4 linked regions of the Homo sapiens genome follow. The protein of the gene in region 3 interacts with the protein of the main gene of each other region in a biochemical or structural test. Each region holds a gene or a part of one and is shown on either strand. Other genes may lie near its edges. The genes, in order: RAC1, SRPK2, FMNL1 and PRPF40A.

Region 1 (3,568 bases), on a different chromosome or scaffold from region 3:
TCATTTTCAGCAAGAGAGCTAGCTGGCCACTAGAGCTACCCTCTGCAGGGTTTCCAGAAGGCCTGAGTGTAGAGCAGTCACACAAAATACACCTGACTTAACAAGCCTCCCAATAACATTTTCAAAGTGAGTGTTAACTGATGATACAAATGTTTAAATTCATGTGAAGTTGCTACACAAATTAGTCAGGAGAGATAACCCAGCAAAGCCTATAGGCTGACAGAGGGAAATCAGACTGATGTTAAAAATTGCTACTGGTCAGCAGAAACCAAGCTTTAGAAGAAAATAGTGTTTCCTCTGCACAGGAAGGCAAAAAAGAAAAAAAAAAAAAGGAAAAATATAATAAAAAGCAGAGGCTGGGCACGGTGGCTCACGCCTGTAATCCCAGCACTTTGGGAGGCCGAGGTGGGCGGATCACCTGAGGTCAAGAGTTCGAGACCAGCCTGGCCAACATGACGAAACTTTGTGTCTACTAAAAATGCAAAAATTAGCCAGGGCGTGGTGACAGGCACCTGTAGTCCCAGCTACTTGGGAGGCTGAGGCAAGAGAATCGCTTGAACCCGGGAAGCAGAGGTTGCAGTGGGCCAAGTTGCGCCACTGCACTCCGGCCTGGGCAACAAGTGCGAAACTCGGTCTCAAGAAAAAAGAAGAAGAAGAAAGAAAAGGTGTGATGGTGATGGACATGTTAATTATATTTCCATAAGAAAAAAATTATTGGATAAATAGTATTGTGACTTTTTTTCCCCATAAGGGAAAAAGAATCAGGTCCTTGCCTCATTCTATACCAAAAATAAGTCCTAAATGAATTAAAGATAAAAATTTTAGCCACAAAAATCCTAGAAAAAAATACTAGAGCATACTTTTGCATTATTTAAGTAGGAAAGGCCTTTCTAAGTACAACATACAATTCTGAGGGAGAGGTGGTATTATCATTATTATTATTATTTTTTTTTTGAGACAGAATCTCACTGTCACCCAGGCTGGAGTGCAGTGGTGCGATCTCGGCTCACTGCAACCTCCACCTCCTGGGTTCAAGTGATTCTCCTGCCTCAGCCTCCTGAGGAGCTGGGATTACAGGTGCACGCCACCATGCCCGGTTAATTTTTGTATTTTTAGTAGAGATGGGGTTTCACCATGTTGATCAGGCTGGTCTTGATCTCCTGACCTCATAATGCGCCCACCTCAGCTTCCCAAAGTGCTGGAATTACAGGTGTGAGCCACCGTGCCCGGGTAAGGTGGTATTATTTACATTAAATGCTAAATTTCTATATGGCAGAAGACACCATAATGAAGTACAAAGACAAATGACAGACTGAGGATTATTTACAAAACGTTCCATCAGGCTACGTGCAGTGGAGCATGCTACTCAATAGGCTGAGGTGGAAGGACCAGTACTTCAAGTCCGGCCTGGGCAATACTGCAAGACCCCATCTCAAAAAAAAAAAAAAAAAAAAAGGGAGGGAGGGAGGGAGCAAGGGAGGGAGGGGAAAAGAAAGGAGAAGGAAGGAGGGAAGGAGGGAAGGAGTAGGAGAGGAGGGAAGGAGGGAGAGAGGGAGGGAGAGGAGGAGGGAGGGAAGAAAGGAAGGGAGGAAGGGAGGGAGAGAGGGAGGGAGGGAAGGAAGGAAGGAAATGTTCCATCAGTAAGAAAAAATTTCAGTAGAAAAATACAAAAGATTTAAACAGACAATTCACAAGAGACTAAAAATGTACAGTAAACATTCAAAAGAGCCAGGTGTGGTGGCTCACGCCTGTAATCCCAACACTTCGGGAGACCAAGGTGGAGAATCACCTGAGGCCAGGTCTTCAAGACCAGCCTGGGCAATATAGCAAAACATAGCTCTACAAAAACACATATTTTTTTTTTCTTTTTTGGAGACAATGTCTTGTTCTGTTGCCCAGGCTGGAGTGCAGAGGCACAATCTTGGCTCACTGCAACCTCCACCTCCCAGGTTCAAGCAATCCTCCTGCCTCAGCCTCCCGAATAGCTGGGATTATAGTCATGTGCCACCATGCCCAGCTAATTTTTGTATTTTTAGTAGAGACAGGGTTTCACCATCTTGGCCAAGTTGGTCTCAAACTCCTTACCTCAGTGATCCGCCCAGCTCAGCCTCCCCAAGTGCTGGGATTACAGGCGTGAGCAAACTTTTTTAATTAAAAAAAAAAAAAATTCAAAAGATTTTAACCACATCTGTGATTGGAAATGAAAACGGTTAGATAACTTCAACCCACGTTAATGGCAGTGTGTACTAAGAGGCCACTTAAGTCAAGGCCAGCAAAGTGACAGCTTTATAGACAGCAATTTGGTAGTTATCTACCAAAAAATAATTTTTTAATTTTTTTTTTTTTTTGGGAGACAGAGTCTCACTCTGTTACCCAGGCTGAAGTGCAGTGGCACAATCTTGGCTCACTGCAACCTCTGCTTCCCGGGTTCAAGCAATTCTCATGCCTCAGCCTCCTGAGTAGCTGGGACTACAGGAGTGCACCACCACACCCGGCTAACTACTGTATTTTTAGCAGAGGTGGGGGTTTTAACATGTTGGCCAGGTTGGTCTCGAACTCCTGACCTCAAGTGATCCTTCCGTCTTGGCCTCCCAAAGTGCTGGGATTACAGGCGTGAGCAATCACGCCCAGCTGTATCTACCAAAATTTAAAACATCCATTGTCTTTTGATTTGGCACGATTTTGCTTCTAATAATCTATCAAGTGTACACAAAGACATAAGGGACAACACTGAACCCAGCAATGTTTGTTAACACCAAGAGTCCAAGTGACCAGTGGGTTAAATCAGTTATAGTACTTCAAAATCATTAATCATTAATGATTAAACCTTTATCTACATATGTAGATAAGGAAAATCTCCCCCATAAATTTAGGACAACAGGGACAGCATGATTCCACTTACAGTAAAAAATGGGTGCCGTGGCTCACGCCTGTAATCCCAGCACTTTGGGAGGCTGAAGTGGGCAGATCACCTGAGGTCAGGAGTTTGAGACCAACCTGGCCAACATGGTGAAACCCGTCTCTACTAAAGAAACAAAAATTAGCCAGGTGTGGTGGTGTATGCCTGTAATCACAGCTACCTGGGAGGCTGAGGCAGAGAATCACTTGAACCCAGGAGGCAGACGCTGCAGTGAGCTGAGATCGCATCACAGCACTCCATCCTGGGCAAGAGAGAGAGACTAACTCCAAAAAAAAAAAAAAAAAAGGAAAACAACAACAACAACAACAAAAACATGGGTACGACACTTCAGAGAGCACCTGGGTGTGTGTTGTGCCTGAGGAGGTGAACACAGGTGGGGAGGAGGCGACACCTCCCCAGCCTGCACAGGGAGGACTCACAGCAGCTGCAGGATGGTGCATTATGAGGCTCAGCTACGTGCGCTCCCGGGTAACCCATCACCAGAGCAGCACTTTCCTGTCTCCACCCAATTCTGCTGCCTATAGGGAGTAAGCAATTCAATAGCCAATTCCACCCTCCCATTCCCCCTTCAACACACACACCCAAGTTTCAATTCCAAAGCCCTACACCTCAATGCGGACATGTAACCAACTGATGACTTATCAGAAA
Region 2 (3,568 bases), on a different chromosome or scaffold from region 3:
CACACAAAAATGTATACACGAGTGTGAATAGCAGTATTATTTTTATAGCCCCTAAAGTGAAAATAACCCAAATGTTCATGAGGTGAAGGGATAAACACAATGTTGTATCTCCATACAGTGGAATACTGTTTGCCAATAAGAATAAGCGAAGTACTAATACATGCTGCACAAGAGTCAAACTTGAAAACATTATGCCAGTTACAAAAAAATACTTTATATGATTCCATTTATAGGAAATGTCCAGAATCAGCAAGTAGATTAGTGGTTGCTAAGGGTTAGAAGGGGTAGGAGAGAGATGGGAAGTGAATGCTGATGAATATGTTGTTTCTTTTTGGAGCAATGAAAATGTTGTCATTTAAATAGTGGTGGTAGTTGCCGTGTGTGGTGGCTCACGCCTGTAATCCCAGTACTTTGGGAGGTCGAGACAGGTGGATCACAAGGTCAGGAGTTCGAGACCACTGGCCAATATGGTAAAACCCCGTCTCTACTAAAAATACAAAAAAAATTAGCCAGGCGTGGTGGCATACGCCTGTAATCCCAGCTGCTTGGGAGGCTGAGGCAGGAGAATTGCTTGAACCTGGGAGGCGGAGGTTGCAGTGAGCCAAGATTGTGCCACTGCACTCCAGCCTGGGTGACAGAGCGAGACTCTGTCTCAAAAAATAAATACATAAAAAATTTAAAAAATAAATAGTAATGATAGTCGCACATCTAAAATCCATTGAATTGTATACCTAAAGGGGTCAATTGTATGATACATGAATTACTAGCCTACTGTTGATCAGAATCCTTAATGATCACATGACCAATTAACATGTATTTTGTATGTGTGTTATATAGCATATTTTTACAACAAAGTAAGCTAGAGAAAAGAATGTTAAGACAATCATAAAGAAGAGAAAATATACTTACTATTCATTAAGTGGATAGATCATATGAAGTAGATGATCATAAAGGTCTTCATCCTCATTATCTTCGCGTTGAGTAGGCTGAGGGGTTGGTCTTGCTGTCTCAGGAGTGGCAGAGGTGGAAGACAATCTGTGTATAAGGGAACCCATGCAGTTCAAACCTGTGTTGTTCAAGGTTCAACTGTATGTAGATGCATTTGCTTCCACGAGCATAAATAATCTCTGAAATTATACACACTGGTTGCTTATGGAAAGGAGAGCTGGATTCCAATGTGGGTAGGCATGGGAGGGAGATTTTTACTAAATATCCTTTTGTGTTTATCAAACTTTGTACCCTGGCATTGTATTACATGTTTTTCAAATAAATAAAAGTTATATAATGAGATATTAATAGCTTATCTTCTCTCTTGATTTTACTATATCCAGGTCCTTCAAGGGTTAGATTACTTACACAGTAAGTGCAAGATCATTCATACTGACATAAAGCCGGAAAATATCTTGATGTGTGTGGATGATGCATATGTGAGAAGAATGGCAGCTGAGGCCACTGAGTGGCAGAAAGCAGGTGCTCCTCCTCCTTCAGGGTCTGCAGGTGAGGGAGCTGAGCCAGCTTCATTTCAGTGTGGGGGCATTGGGAGCTTGCAAAGTTGCAGTTGTTGAAGGTATCTGAATCAAACGTTACACATAAGGAAGATTTTGGAAAAGTTTAATTGCTGGAAATAACTGCACCCTTGAAATGGAAAATGCCCCAGCTACATTATATTTTAATATTGGAAGTATTTACTTTTGTCCCCCTTTAAAAGGCCATTTAAATTTGTAGTTGCTGCTTCATCTATATTTGAACAGTTTTTTCTGTTGCCAGCTTCTCTGCAGAGGAGAACATAGTAACAGCTTTCCTGTAGCTGACCTTTAGTCATCAGAATATTTTTCTGGCTTCAATTTTGTGTACATAAATTCTTGTTGTCCATTTAGCATAGCTATGTCAACCTGAGTTGTATCAACAGATTTGGAGTTAGTTAGAAAAGGCCTGATGGTGGGGGAAGAAGATCAAGTGACCTGAGTATTGGGATATCTTTATTTCTGGGGCGGGGTCGGGGAGGTGGTGCAGTGAAGTGTGGACTGTGCTTCTCACTCTTCGACACCATGATCTGTGCCTTTGTGTGTTGTCAGGCAAGCATGGATACTAAAGGGCTGAGGCTCCTGGGACTGCCTGGGGCTCTCTTCACATCTCCTTTACTGCCATCAGGGTGTTGTTTAGATCATGGACCCAGCCTGTTAAGCTTTTGACCCTGGTGTAGGGGTTTAATCATGTGATTCCTAGACTATTTGCTGCATACCAACTGCAGTATTTGATTTAAATTATAGAAAGCTTGCAAAATAGATTCCAAATATCGATGTACATCTACATTGTTCATTTCATTATATTTTAAACAAATTTGGTTTAATGACTGTGATATGTATTCTTTTCCATTTTCTTAAGTGATCTGTTGGTGCTTGAGCTTGACTGTGTTTGAGATGTATTAGTATTTCATTTTAGATAAATAAGAGAAATGGCTCAGTATGAGTAACTTCTGCTGTGACTTCAGGAGTCACTCATTTGTTTCAGTGGCATAAACTTACTCTAGATCCTTGTGATTAAGAAGCTCTGATTAATAGTTTTTGAAGTTGGATAGCCATTAAAAGACAATAATTATTTCACTTTGCAATTCGAATGACCTACATGAAGGCATGTGTCTGTTTTCTGCTAAATACAGATTTTGTTTGATTTTATTTTAGTGAGTACGGCTCCACAGCAGAAACCTGTAAGTACTTACGCATATTACTTTATATGCACCATGTTAAAAGAGACCGTTTATTATTGAGTTGTTCAAATTATAAAAAAGTTGTGTATTTAAAGGGTAGACACATTTATAAAAGCTGTGTATCCTCAAATAGGTAAGACTTAATGTCTTGTTAATTTTTTTTTTTTTTTTTTTTGAAAACTGAGTTTCACTCTGTTGCTCAGGCTGGAGTGCAAGTGGTGCGATCTCGGCTCACTGCAACCTCCCCCTCCCTGGTTCAAACGATTCTTGTGCCTCAGCCTCCCGAGTAGCTGGGATTACAGGCACCTGCCACCGCACCCAACTAATTTTTGTATTTTTAGTAGAGAGGGGTTTCACCATGTTGGCCAGACTGGTCTCGAACTCTTAACCTCAAGTTATCTGCCTGCCTCGGCCTCCCAAATTTCTGGGATTACAGGTTTGAACCACCACGCCCAGCCTGTCTTGTTAAGTTTTAATGATCTGTGCAGAGTTGGGATAGTTAGAGCCTTTCAAAAATTGTCTTCTTTATGCATTTTCTGGACTATGGTGGCCAAGTTTAGTGAAATGTGAGGTGATGGAGTTGAAGTATTTTTATTTCAAAACCACTTTACATTATTTCTGATTGGCTGCTAAGTTACCTGTTTTTCTGAAGCTGTTGTTCTAATTTTTTCCATGCGGATGTTAAATAAGAAAGAGACTGATCTATTTTGTGGTCCTGTCAAAACACTATGTCCTTATTAGATACTGGGTGTGGTGACTCACGCCTGTAATCCCTGCACTTTGGGAGGCTGAGGCCACTAGATCACTTGAAGTCAGGAATTCAAGACCAGCCTGGCCAACATGGTGAAATCCTGTCTCTAC
Region 3 (3,568 bases):
TCCAGGGAGGGCACCACCTGCTGGCTAGACTGAGTTCCTTCCCACCCCAGGGCGGGGCCTACGGCAGGACTGACCCCTGCATAGTCCACCCCAAAGCTGTGTCAGGGCTGTGGCCTGGGAGCCCATACAGGAAGGGCAGGCTAGGCCTAGGCCAGGGGTTTTTAAAGTGGCCCGATGCTAGCTGGGCGTGGTGGTGCACACCCGTAGTCCCAGCTACCTGGGAGGCTGAGGTAGGAGGATCGCTTGAGCCCGGGAGTAGGAGGCTCCAGTGAACTATGTTCGTGCCACAGCACTCCAGCCTGGGCCACAGGGCAAGAAAAGAGAAAGATAAAAGAAAAGAAAAAAAAAGAAAGTGGCTTGGTGGACTGTTTGGGTTTATACCTTTGGTATTTCAGAGGCGTCTTAAGAAAGCCTGGGACCTCAGATCGGAGCTGAGAATGGGACACTGGGACGAGAACTGGTCATTTGCCCTGGGGTAGCTCTGGCTGGTTTTCTGTACACCCCATTCCATCTCCCCAGGAGCGGTTTCAAGTCAAGAATCCCCCCGCAGCCTACATCCAGAAGCTGAAGAGCTATGTGGATACTGGTGGGGTCAGCCGAAAGGTAGCAGCTGATTGGATGTCCAACCTGGGGGTACATGTCTCCCCTCTTTACTCTGTCCCTTTCCCCCACATTTTCCAAGCTCTGGGCAGCTGGAGTAACTGTGTGTACAGACTTTTCTATGTGCGTGTGTGGGTGCATGTATGAGTGTGTGTGTGTGTTTGTGTGTCTGTGTATTTATAGGGGAATGAGAGTGCCCTGGGTGTGCACTTTAGATATTCCTCTGTACATCCTGTGTGTGCTTACATGGACACATTCTGTGTACTTATACTGTGTGTATACACATGTGCAGCCCATATGTCCATACATAGGTGTGTGTGTATACTATGTGTGTACTTTGTCCACTTATGGATGTGTGTGTGTACCATTGAGTCCATATCTAGGAGAGAGAGAGAATGTGTGTGTGTGTGTGTCCATGTATGGATGTGTGGATATTCTATGTCTGTATTTAGAGTGCAGGTATATGGATGTTCATGTGCTGTGTGTGTGTGTGCGCACACACACTCTGCCTCTTTGTGTGTGTGCATGTGTATACCTTGTGTGCCCATGTATCGGGGGTGTGTGTACCCTGCTTGTCTATGTATGGGGGAGCACATGTAGCCTGTGAGTTCTTATTCTGCTGGGCAGGTGTGTGGAGGTGGTGGGGGAGGCTGAGCATGAAAGGCCACTTGTGCCAGTTGGAGGAGGGTGGGCGCTGCTGCCTGCTGCCTCAGGACTTGGTGGGCCTGTGGGAGGCCGGGCTCCACCCACCAGCCTTCCCTGTTCTCGGTCCCCAGTTTAAGAGGCGAGTTCAGGAGTCCACGCAGGTGCTACGGGAGCTGGAGACCTCCCTGAGGACCAACCACATTGGGTGAGTGAGGGCTCAGATCTTCCTCTCTGGGCCTAGGAAGGCTCTGCTTCCAGGCAGCTCCTGGAGCTTCCCCTTCCTACTCCCCCTGCCCCCTGCACAAGGCTGTGCTTGTGGACCACCTCCTGGAGGTGTCCAGGACAGCTTCCCCTCCCCTTCCTGCCCATGCTCTGACTGGCACCTTGAGGCATGGCTGGGCTGTGGGACCCACCTGAGTCTCCCAGAATCCTTTGGTATCATTGGGTCTTTGGGGGTTGAAAGGGCACCCCAGGGGTCCTTGCTGTCCCTGTTCTGTGCCCATGTGGGGCAGGACCTCCTTTCTGGCTGGAGCTCAGGGAGCCCTGTGCCCACAGGTGGGTGCAGGAGTTCCTCAATGAAGAGAACCGTGGCCTGGATGTGCTGCTCGAGTACCTGGCCTTTGCCCAGTGCTCTGTCACGTAAGCCCCCTGCTCCCAGCCCTCATGCCGCTCCTCAGAGCTTTGATCCCCGTCTCCCTGCATCTCACCCACTCCCCTGGCCAGTTTCAAGCCAGGCAGCCCGAGCCTACCCTGGAACCCTCCACTTGGCCTTGAGCGATGCTCCTTCCAGAAGGCCTGCCCCCGACAGGGAGGGGTGGCCTCTCTTCCACCACTATGTTCAGCACAGTGCCAAGAACACAGCCTCCTCCTCCTGCTCCTTAGTCTCACCTGCAGGTCTGTCTCTCCTTGCGTTTCCTCTGCCCCCTCTTAAGTGGCCCCTGCAGTGTTGGCCTCCAGCCCCATTGCATCCTGTCCCCAGGTATGACATGGAGAGCACAGACAACGGGGCTTCCAACTCAGAGAAAAACAAGCCCCTGGAGCAGTCTGTGGAAGACCTCAGCAAGGGTCCACCCTCCTCCGTGCCCAAAAGCCGCCACCTGACCATCAAGTATGTGGGCCACAAAGTGGGGTGGTGGGAGAACAGAGAATTCAGCCCCCACACTGCTGCATCTAGCCAGCCCACCCCGGGCCCTTGGGGTTGGCGAGAGGGGTAGCCATGCATTAGGGGTCCGAGTAAGGGACTCATACAGAGTTTGGGACACCAGTATGTTAAGAAGCCATCAGGGGTGGGGCTGGGTGCTGTGGCTCATGCCTGTAATCCCAGCACTTTGGGAGACTGAGGTGGGCAGATCATTTGAGGACATGAGTTTGAGACCAGCCTGGCTAACATGGTGAAACCCCATCTCTACTAAAATACAAAAATTAGCCGGGTGTGGTGGTGCACGCCTGTAATCCTAGCTACTCAGGAAGCTGAGGTGGGAGAATCGCTGGAGCCCAGGGGATGGAGGTTGCAGTGAGCTGAGATCGCACCACTGCACTGCAGCCTGGGTGACAGAGTGAGACCCTGTCTCAAAAAAAAAAAAAAAAAAAAAAAAGAAAAGAAAAGAAAAAAGAAGCCATCGGGGTGGGCACCTAGAAGTTGGAGTCTGGATGGGTCTGGGATAAGAAGGGAGTTTCTGGGTTGGTGGGACCCCTCTTGTATGCATCTAATCCCCTGTTTTCTCCCATGCGGCCTCCAGGTGTCCCCCTTCTCCCCGGTACGTAGCCATCTAGGGGCAGGTGCATGCCTGGCTGACTCCCTCCCAGGGTGGTGGTGGGTTAGGATGAGGTATTCAACTGATGTCCCTGGGTTCAGTGCTGTGGCTGGGTTCCTCCATCCTAACACGGGCATCTTGCTGGGAGGCAGGAAGCAGGCAGTAGATGGACCCTAGAGCATCTTGTGAATCCCTAGCTTCCTGCTTTGGGTCTAGAGGATTGATTGCATATTAAGCCTCAAACTTTCACAATATGTTATTTGTCCATTCATGCAATTATGCATTCAGCAAACATTTTTTTAACACTTAGTATGTATTAGGTATATGGCAGGTGCCCAGGAGACAGGTCACCCTGCCCTCAGGGGCCCACAGTCTAAGTGGGGGACAATTTAGTGTGACAGGCTGTCATGGAAGTGTGCCTGGGAGCTCTGAGAAGGGAGGTGGCCACCACTTGGGACATCAGGAAGGCTTCCCAGAAAAGGTGACGCTGGAACTGTGTCTTACAGACAGATACAGGCTTTACAGGCAGCCATGGGAACAGGGAAGAGCATTCCAGGCAGAAGGAACAG
Region 4 (3,568 bases), on a different chromosome or scaffold from region 3:
AAAAGAATTTCCGAGTTGTAAGGGAGTATGGACATATTTAGTCTTGTTTGAAGAGGAGTGAGTGCAGTTGTAAGTGCCTGATGTTACTTTGGGACAGCTCTATCCAATAAAAATGTGAATGCCACAAATGCGATTTTAATTTCCTATTTATTTTAGTAATTTAACCCAATATAACCAGATATTATTTTAACACATCAATATTTTTAAAAATTGCTAATATTTGTGGTATTAAATCTTCAAGATCATTGTGTATTTTGTACTTAACAGCACATCACAACTCAGACTAGCTACATTTCATGTACCGAGAAGCTACGTTTGGTCAGTGGCTACCTTATTGAACAGTGCAGGTATAGGAATTGTGGGAACAGAATATAGGGTTACAGTTTCTTTTAGGCACATTTGTGTATAGCAGCGGTCCCCAACCTTTTTGGCACCAGGGACCGGTTTAGTGGAAGACAGTTTTTCTTGGTGGGGTGGGGTGGGGAGTTGGTATCATCAGGCATTAGATTCTCATAAGGACCACACAACCTAGATTCCTGGCATGCTCAGTTCACAATACGGTTTGCAGTCCTATGAGAATCTGATGCCGCCACTGATCTGACAGGAGGTGGAGCTGGGGCGGTAATGCTTGTTCCACCACTCACTTCTTGCTGTGTGGCTTGGTTCCGGTTCCGTGGCTGGGGGTTGGGATCCCCTGGTGTATAGGATTAAACTCCCTGAGGATTGGGTTGGAAGCAGGAAGTGTGGAAATTGAAACTAGATATGGGTTTGAATCCTAGGTCTCCAAACTACTTTGGGAAAATTATACATCCTCCTCTTAAGGCCCCTTGTTTTTTAAAAGTAAATAAAAATACCTAGAACACATTAGGCACTATTTTTAAAGACAGAAAGTATATATTTAAGGAAACATGCATATACATTCTTTAGCCTCATCATTTGAGGTAGATATCCAGTAATTTAAGTTAACTTTTACCTTTTTTTTTTTAAAGCTAAAAATTAGGTTCTATCTTAAAGGGTAGGAAATAGAACCTTAGGAAGATAATGTGCAGTTTCAAAAGTTATTTTCTCTAAAGGACAAAATATTTTTTTGCCTAGAGGCAGTTGTTACTTTGCCCAAATAGCAAATATTCTTTGTGCCCAAACAGGTTTGGGATAACATTGGTAGAAGAGTTTTAACTATGTCAAAGTTTTTGTGTGTTTTCATGTTAGACGCTTATTTCTCATGTACTCGAGATGACTTTCCAAATATAATTTTTCTCCCTAGATATTTTTAGATGAATTACATGAACATGGACAACTGCATTCTATGTCATCTTGGATGGAATTGTATCCAACTATTAGTTCTGATATTAGATTCACTAATATGCTTGGTCAGCCTGGTAAGATTATTTTCTTTCCTAATTTACCGTTATGGTAGTAGTTGAAATGGGCCAAATGCAAAGGTGATTGTGTTGGGGGAAAGGGTGCTTTATTTTTGTTTTTTAAACAACAAAGTAATTGCAGCTCTTTGGTTAGAGCTAGCTTTTGACTTCTTTAGTTTTTTCATTAGGATCAACTGCACTTGATCTTTTCAAGTTTTATGTTGAGGATCTTAAAGCACGTTATCATGACGAGAAGAAGATAATAAAAGACATTCTAAAGGTAAATATATTTATTCTTACCTTTTAACCAATAGTATATCTTAAAAGTTAGTACTGTATTCCTTTGATTTATGCATTATTAATGTTAAGATTTCTTTTTTTTAGGATAAAGGATTTGTAGTTGAAGTAAACACTACTTTTGAAGATTTTGTGGCGATAATCAGTTCAACTAAAAGATCAACTACATTAGATGCTGGAAATATCAAATTGGCTTTCAATAGTGTAAGTTATGTTTTCTGTTGTAAGTAACTAGTTTAGTAGTATAGTTTTTAATTTATTCAGATAAAAGCAGCTAAGTTGCAGAGTGTTGGAATAAGGGAATATGAATAGAATTTTACAGAGTGGTAGCCAGTCTTTCAGGTAAGGTAAAACAAAAAACTTTATTTAGATGATGGATTGATATTAAACTTCCTTTGCTCAAATTAACTGGTATTATACATAAAATGGCCATTATAAATCAGGCCTTGGGCCACACATAAAGTACACTAACGATAGCTGATGAGCTTAAAAAAAAAATTGCAAAAAATCCTTATAGTGTTTTAAGAAAGTTTACAAATTTGTGTTGGGCCACATTCAAAGCGGTCCTGGGCCACAGGTTGGACAAGCTCGTTTTAAACAATGCGTGATTCCTAAATTAACAATAAATTATTTCAGCTAATAGTTATGATACTATTATAACTGATTAAATATGATTTTCTTAATAGTTACTAGAAAAGGCAGAAGCCCGTGAACGTGAAAGAGAAAAAGAAGAGGCTCGGAAGATGAAACGAAAAGAATCTGCATTTAAGAGTATGTTAAAACAAGCTGCTCCTCCGATAGAATTGGATGCTGTCTGGGAAGATGTATGTATACTTGTTATTTTTTTCTAATGGAATTCTTTTCTTTACAGTTGAGAAATTTAAAATATTTTTATTTTTCATTTTATAGCCACAAAAATAAGCTAAATTTATTTGTAGAATATATTAAATATATTTAGAATATAATAAAAGCATTAAATCAGCTGTTGACTCTGTTTAGGAATATTTGTAAAGAATGGTTTGGACTTTTGAAGGGAGGAAATAATGGACTTTAAGGGGACTGATTCATCACAGTTTTCACTTGCTGTTATGATTTATTTTAGATGTATCGTTGTACTTTTCTTGGTATTCATATATTTATTTTGTATCTGAATTTTTCAGATCCGTGAGAGATTTGTAAAAGAGCCAGCATTTGAGGACATAACTCTAGAATCTGAAAGAAAACGAATATTTAAAGATTTTATGCATGTGCTTGAGGTAATTTTAGAATTCTCATATACAAAATATATAAAATATAAACAAATTGAAGAACTTAGAATGATGAAAGTATGTTGCTTAATATTCACTGCTTTTATACAAATGTACTTACCTGGATGGTTAGAGAATGGTTTTTTTCCTATAAAAACTGCTTTTAAGTAAAAGAAACTATTAAGTTTCCATGGGAATATAAAGATTTGTATGTGAAGACTGTTTTGTATTTTTAGAAAGTTTTAGAAATTGAGCAGTTTGGCAGCCACATGGATTGATTGACTAATAAAGAAAACTTGAAATTTTTCTTGTAAAGCAGATAGAAGACAGCTTTTAGGCACATTTGAGGTATTATACCACATTAGCTGTGTAGAAAAGAAAGTTTCTGGAAAGTAATGGAATAAATGGTAAGTTTTTGTTAAAATAAGCAATGAAACAATAACATCTCAGGTCACTTTAATAGGTAAGGTTCACTGGGCACGGTGGCTCACGCCTGTAAAACAAGCACTTTGGGAGGCCAAGGTGTGTGCTGATCACCTGAGGTCAGGAGTTTGAAACCAGCCTGGCCAACATGGCGAAATCCTGTCTCTACTAAAAATACAAAAAAATTATCAGGGAGTGGTGGCGGGCACCTGTAATCCCAGCCACTCAGGAGGCTGAGGC

The links.
Region 1: the proteins of FMNL1 (region 3) and RAC1 form a complex in vitro, tested with the Homo sapiens proteins (one study listed by BioGRID).
Region 2: of the proteins of FMNL1 (region 3) and SRPK2, one has a biochemical effect on the other in vitro, tested with the Homo sapiens proteins (one large-scale study listed by BioGRID).
Region 4: the proteins of FMNL1 (region 3) and PRPF40A form a complex in vitro, tested with the Homo sapiens proteins (one study listed by BioGRID).

The regions. Positions count from the first base shown.
Region 1 is NC_000007.14:6,387,984-6,391,551, reverse strand, and holds part of RAC1 (ras-related C3 botulinum toxin substrate 1), read right to left. Parts: intron 1-3,568. UniProt on the Homo sapiens protein: Plasma membrane-associated small GTPase which cycles between active GTP-bound and inactive GDP-bound states.
Region 2 is NC_000007.14:105,144,422-105,147,989, reverse strand, and holds part of SRPK2 (SRSF protein kinase 2), read left to right. Parts: intron 1-1,331; coding exon 1,332-1,497; intron 1,498-2,681; coding exon 2,682-2,707; intron 2,708-3,568. UniProt on the Homo sapiens protein: Serine/arginine-rich protein-specific kinase which specifically phosphorylates its substrates at serine residues located in regions rich in arginine/serine dipeptides, known as RS domains and is involved in the phosphorylation of SR splicing factors and the regulation of splicing.
Region 3 is NC_000017.11:45,231,848-45,235,415, forward strand, and holds part of FMNL1 (formin-like protein 1), read left to right. Parts: intron 1-519; coding exon 520-633; intron 634-1,376; coding exon 1,377-1,450; intron 1,451-1,800; coding exon 1,801-1,884; intron 1,885-2,224; coding exon 2,225-2,353; intron 2,354-3,568. UniProt on the Homo sapiens protein: May play a role in the control of cell motility and survival of macrophages. Plays a role in the regulation of cell morphology and cytoskeletal organization. Required in the cortical actin filament dynamics and cell shape.
Region 4 is NC_000002.12:152,661,949-152,665,516, reverse strand, and holds part of PRPF40A (pre-mRNA-processing factor 40 homolog A), read left to right. Parts: intron 1-1,264; coding exon 1,265-1,379; intron 1,380-1,537; coding exon of another isoform or gene 1,538-1,549; coding exon 1,550-1,641; intron 1,642-1,745; coding exon 1,746-1,862; intron 1,863-2,344; coding exon 2,345-2,482; intron 2,483-2,818; coding exon 2,819-2,914; intron 2,915-3,568.